2 separate regions of the Homo sapiens genome follow, and region 2 is linked to region 1. The links come from fine-mapping of genetic effects on gene expression. A gene starts in region 1. The other region holds a variant in brackets. All regions are shown on one strand. Distances are between the middles of the regions. Region 1 holds the start of OTX1 (orthodenticle homeobox 1). Region 2 overlaps WDPCP (WD repeat containing planar cell polarity effector).

Region 1 (2,908 bases):
CACTGAAAGATCGCTGACGCGAAATCCCACCGCACCTCAACCGCAGTAACGGGCCCAGGCTTCGCAGAGGGCCAGAGGACGCCGAAGGGGCCACTGTAGAGGGGGGCGACCCCAAGATGCGGCCTGAGGTCGGGAGCGCCTCAGCTGCGGCCAGCGTCCTTCGTTGCCAGCGCGCACCCGGCCTTCTCTCTGCCCAGTCTGGGCTGCGGACCGCAGGGTCCCAGCAGGGGGTGAAGGGTGACTGGCCTAGCACCTCAAAGGGTCTCGGGGATTTGTGAAGCCGGAGGGCAGCAAGTCGCGTGCTGCCATCCTTGTAGCTGAACCCGCGGCCCCAGGACACGGTCGAGAACAGAGAACTAGGCCTCAGCGGCGTAGCCCACGCAGACCCGAGCTGGGAGGTCGAAGCCTCGCCCCCGCCGCTGCCGGGAACCCGGGGTGCCACTCTCAGGGGTCAGGGAGGGGCGCTGGAAACTGGGCCTGGGGCCCTGGGGGGCCATCGCTACACCCCGCTTAGCGGGATCGCTGTGAAGCAAGCCAGGGACTCGGGCTAGGACGTTCAAGGAGAGAAGTTAGAGCTAAAGAAGCTCCCCCCAGCCCCGTTCCCGCCCCCGTCTTCTGGGACCCAAGACCTGGGCTGAGGGAGTCCAGCTTGTAGGAAGGGGACCGGAAGGGAAGCAGCCAGGGCTCTAGGGCCGAAGGAAAATGGGACTCAAAGCTGCGACGGCTTTGCGAAGCTGCAGCGTGAGTTTTCAAAGACTTTCTCCAAACTTAGCACTTCAGCTTGGTTACTTCGGAGGAGGCGGGGGAGGGGGCTGCGGGCCGCGACAGCGCCCCGGGGTCCTCGGCTCACCAAGAGGGGAGCCAGGCCGCTCCCACAGCCCCGACCACCTGCTGGGGACCGGGGAAGCCGGGATCCATTTGAGGAGGGGGAGATAAGGGTAACCAACGCGCTCCCGGAGTCCGGGGTGGCCCCGCGGCTTTCTCCTTACCTGCCCTCAGCTGCCGGGGCCGTTCACCATCTACCTGGATCTCTCACAGAGACCCGCCGGGCAGCCAACCTGCAAAACAGAGCAGCACTGGAATTACCCTGGCGGCTGGTCTAGGACCCCCAGGTTTCTTTCTTTTCCCAACTTCCTTCTTCCCACCTCTATCTTTTTTTTCAATGGCTTTGTGCGTGTCCTTCTGGGTTTCACTTTATTGCACAGACACTTTGTTTGCTAAGCCCCACACGTTCTCAGGACATTGCCTCGCCTGGGATCGCGCCGAGGGGCCGCAAGGGGGGGAATTCGAGGGGCAGAGTTGGGAGGTGGCTCGGCGTTGCCGCGGCACTCCCGGTGCAACGTGGAGGCAGTGGGGACTGGGAAGTCCTGCAGAGTCACTTTGCAAACTAAATAAATCAAGCGATTTACCTTGTCGGAGTGGCTTGTCTTGCTCGGTTGTTTAGGTGATTGGAAATGTAGCCTGATGAAGATTGATCACCTTTCTACTGCCCTCCCCGGGTATGTGAACGCGAGGCGAGTGCGTAACGGGGCTAGGCCGCCAATCGGGGGCCCCGCGCGGGCTGAGTGACAGGGAGCCGGGCAATGGCTGCGCGAGCCGGGGGTTACCTCCGCGCGCCCCCGCCCTCCCCCGCCCCCCACACCCCGCCCTCCCCGCCCTCCCGCCCCGCCCCGGTCGCGCGCTAACTCCGGGACTCGGCTGGCAAAAGCGGCGCAGAGCTAGGCGAGGAAGGCGAGCGGAGAGCCCGAGTCCTGGCCGCGGAGGGGGCCGTGGGTCTCCAGGCCTGCCCTGGGCGCCCCCGCCCTTCTCGCGCTCTCGGCGCTCCGGAGGGAGTGGCAGGGAGGAGGCGAGGTGCTGGAGAACCGGTTCCTTCGCTCTCCCGCGCGCTACAGGGCTCAGCCGCTCGGGTGTGGGCGCCAGGACCCGGGGGCGGCGGGCTGGAGGAGCCCGGGCCTCGGCCCCTCTCCCGGCGCCGCGGGCCCCAGCGTTTTCTTCCCCGGCGCCGCCACCTGAGACCGACGCCGCGGGCTGCTCGTGCCGGCGCAGGCTACTTTGCAGAGCGCGGGAGCAGCTCCGGGCGTGCAGATCTCTCCTCGGCCCCTCCGGACTCTCGCGCCTGGGAAGAGCACCCACTGGGAGGGCGCCGCCACTTACCTGCTTGCTCGTCGGCATCTCCCGGGGTTCCAGGTCCCCACCAAGGGTGTTTGCAAGTCTTAAGCGCTTCTACTGAAACGTTGGAGCCCAGCGTCCTCTTCCCCTCACACGTACACCCTACTTCTTAATTGAAACATTTTGATAGGAAAGTTTCTTTTTCGCTCTTTCTCTCTCTTTCTTAGACTGCCTCTAACAGGGACTTTTTGATGGAAAATGTGGCCACAGACCCCTGCCCTCAACTTTTTTCCACATGCTGCGTAAGGATCCTCCTTGAGGCGATTTCCCCGGATTGTTCGTACGGGCGAAGCCCATTTCCCACCCGAAAAAACTTCCCAAACACGTCTACCTGGGTGGACTTTTAAAAGTGCAAAAAAGAGTTTTCGTTCCAACTCTAAGCTAGGCGAATCTTTTAAATGGCACCTCCTCCTGAAAATTAGGCACTTTATTCCCTTTCGAGGAATTTCTACCCCTTGTTTCTAATCTCCCCCACTCCCCCACCCCGACAGGCGGGGTAAAAAGTTTGCACAGGATTAAGTGTGAGGGCAAGTCAAGGAGCCTCCAGGCGCATCGCAGTGGGGAGCACTCGCGCTGCCCGGGCTGCGGGGTCGGGCGCCGAGAGCGGACCGGGCGCTGGGTGAGGAGGAGGAGAACGAAGGGGGAGCCCGCTGAGTGAAAAGGGGCCGCGGCCGCCGCTCATCAAAGTGCTTCCCCCTCCCCCAAGCGACACTTTCCTTTGGAGTCCGAATAAAATACG
Region 2 (2,908 bases), 300 kb before region 1:
GAAGTTTAAGTCAGTTGTGGAGATAGCATGCAGTAATTTTTGAAAAGTCCAAGGCTTGGAGTCAAACACAACTAAGTTTGAATCCCAGCTTCCTAATTTATTGGATGGGTAACTTTGGGTGAGTTACTTAAGCTATTACTATTATTTCCATCTTTATAGATGAAGAACTTACCAAACTTTAATTAAATGCCAAGATTATAAATAATAAATAATAAAGTGACTAGCATGTATTAAGTACTTTGTAAGTGATAGCTATTATCATTGTGTTTGTGGCTATCTCGCCTACTAGACTGAGTTTCTTAAGGTGAGAAAGACTAATGTCATTAGTTTTTCTAAACTTTTTAGTCCTACCACAGGACATCAAGCATTAGGGGATTTTGAAAATACCCTATAAAAGTAAATGTAGTTATAGCTGACATCTAGCTGATGATAACTTTTGAATGATACTAATTTTAAAACTTGCAAGGTCCAAAATGACAGAAGTTTAGGTCCCTAACATATAAGTCAAAGAGGGGGCTGGCATTAGGGAGGGCCACAATCAAAAGTCAGGGCCATAGCTGGGACTCAATAAAGCTCAGATGAATATCCAGTCGGGGGCGGGGGGGGCAATTTCCCCCTCTCAGAAGTTATTTCTTCAACACCCAATGACCCCCCCACAAAAACAGCCCAACATGGGAGCTACTTGATCATTCTTTTTCCATGACTACAACATGGCATTTCTAATCTTGAATTCTGAAAACCAAAGAACCAGATCTAAAGAAGGATCTATAAGCCTGGGGCAAATACTTAATTCTTTTCCAATGACAGTAGAGCAACACTATGGTAAAGAGTGTGAGTTTTGGAGCAAGACTGCCAGGCTCCATGTCCTACTATGCAATTGAGTAGCTATGGGAGCTTGGACAAGTTAAGGGTTGCCAGATTTAGCAAAAATACAGAATGCCCAGTTAAGTCTGAATTTCAGATAATAAATAATTGTTTCATATAAGTATGTCCCAAATATTGTATCAGATATACTTATAATCAAAAATTATTATTCATCTGAAGTTCAAATATAACTAGGTGTCTTGTGTTTCACCTGGCAACTCTTATTTAACATCTCTGTACTTGAGTTTTCTCATCAGTTGAATGGGGATAATAGTACTACCAATTTAACAGGGCTGTTGTCAAGATTAAATGAATTAATATATGTAAGGTACTTAAAATAGTAACTAGTACACAGAAGATCCTAATAAATATTACCTGTTGTTGTTACTGTGGCTATTGTTGTTAGGGTTGTAATATTTAATGAAAATATTATTTGAGAGTTCCTGCTTTCAGCTATGATAATTATTTGGAAACAGACTGACCCTCTTGCCATAGACAATTATTAAACTGGACAAAATGCACTGAAAATTTGTCTTTAGATATTAAAAGATTGACAGTATAGGACTCTGATCCCTGAGAATTAAAAACAAATGAGGTCAACCTTATGATCCTCTGGTTTTATGATGAGAGGCACTTTCTAGACCAGAGAGCAAAGAGAGGGAATGCAAGTGGAACATGGCAGTTTTTTGAGTTAGTTGGAGTTCAGGGAAGATGAGGCAGCTTGAATTTGCAGGTTTGTGTACTGGAGAGGCAGGTGCTTTGTGGAGAAAGAGCTCCATAAATCTACATAAGAGTCACCTTGAGTCTTTGGCTGAACTCTGAGCTATGCATT[C/G]ATAGAGTGAGATGACTTGAGGCTAGGAAAAGAACAATAACAGGCAGTTCCATGTCTCCCAGAAAGGGAGCTGCCCTAGAATCCCTGCTGGGGATTGGCTGGGAGCAGCCTGTGGGAATTATATGTTCTGTGCAGATGCACTAATGGATTTCAGACCATAGCAGCCAGGGCTGCTGGTCTATTTTGTTGAATGAAGTCAGAAATCTGAGGGGTGCATTCTCAAGATCTCCACTATCCACCTATTGGCTGAATAGGTCTACTTTTCCACATAGGCTCAGCTATTCCATAGTAACTGAGGGGAGGTGAAATGGGAGGTTCATAATATAAACTGAACCCACTGTCACTGCATCTCATCTCGGCTTCAGATGATTCTTACTCTCCCTGCTATGCTTTCCATTTTTTCTTGTGCCATAACAATTGGGGTATTTCACTTCATTGAGTATTGGACATTACTTTTTCCAGGCATCTAAGAGCCATTCCAGCAGCAATTAGCTCCATCTCTTGGGCTCCTCAGTAAGGTGTTAAATCCTGTGTCCTGAAAAAGTACCTCCACATAAATGGACTCTTACCCAGTTTTCCATTCCAGCTCCCATGTTCAAGCATCCTCTTAATCCAATCCGAGAGGTGCTCCCCTATTTTTGCTGGCACATAGTGTCGAATTCTTGCAACTCTTTAGTTGTATAGTCTCCTACCTTATCAGGTTCATCATGTCCCCAGCTGGATTGTGCTGAGATTTGACTGTAGTTATCAGCCTGGCAGCCAGGATAAAGGTAGAGGCATTTCCTGAGAGAGGGGAGTAGGTACTACATTGTGGGGAAAGGTCTCTGAGCTTCTTCTAGTACAGTGGAGTGCTGGCTCAGATTCAAGAGTTCTGCAGTATCAGAATACTCAAGGGCATCTATTCAGAGGTACCCATTTCATATTTCAGGATTCCAAGTGTTACTAAGCAGTTCCCTGACTTTAGTAAAGCAGACCTGCCTTGATGTTGCATCTTAACATCTCTAGAGTTCTGATCAACAATTAGATCTTCTACTTGTCTACTATGTCTGCCCTTCAAATTAAGAAGATAAGAACCTCTGTGAGCTACCAGAGAGATTCTCTGTCACATTTAGTCATTACCTGTAAATAGCACTCAGTCTTTCACTAGCCTTCCTGAAAGCATATACAGCTTAGTAGCAATCAGCAAATTCCACTGACTTAGTGAGACTTGCC

The links.
Region 2: its variant is fine-mapped to the expression of OTX1 in whole blood (TOPMed, PIP above 0.99).

Annotation. Positions count from the first base shown.
Region 1 is chr2:63,049,399-63,052,306 of GRCh38, reverse strand. OTX1 (orthodenticle homeobox 1) reads right to left here and starts at 1,477. Exons shown (of 5, transcript NM_014562.4): 1 at 1,410-1,477; 2 at 990-1,058. RefSeq lists a silencer at 1,452-2,111 and enhancers at 2,228-2,908, 2,339-2,908.
Region 2 is chr2:63,345,429-63,348,336 of GRCh38, reverse strand. The region is part of intron 12 of WDPCP (WD repeat containing planar cell polarity effector); the gene reads left to right. Among named protein-coding and RNA genes, the nearest start is that of WDPCP, 240 kb to the left of the region's middle. The variant C/G (reference allele first, on the strand shown) is at 1,697.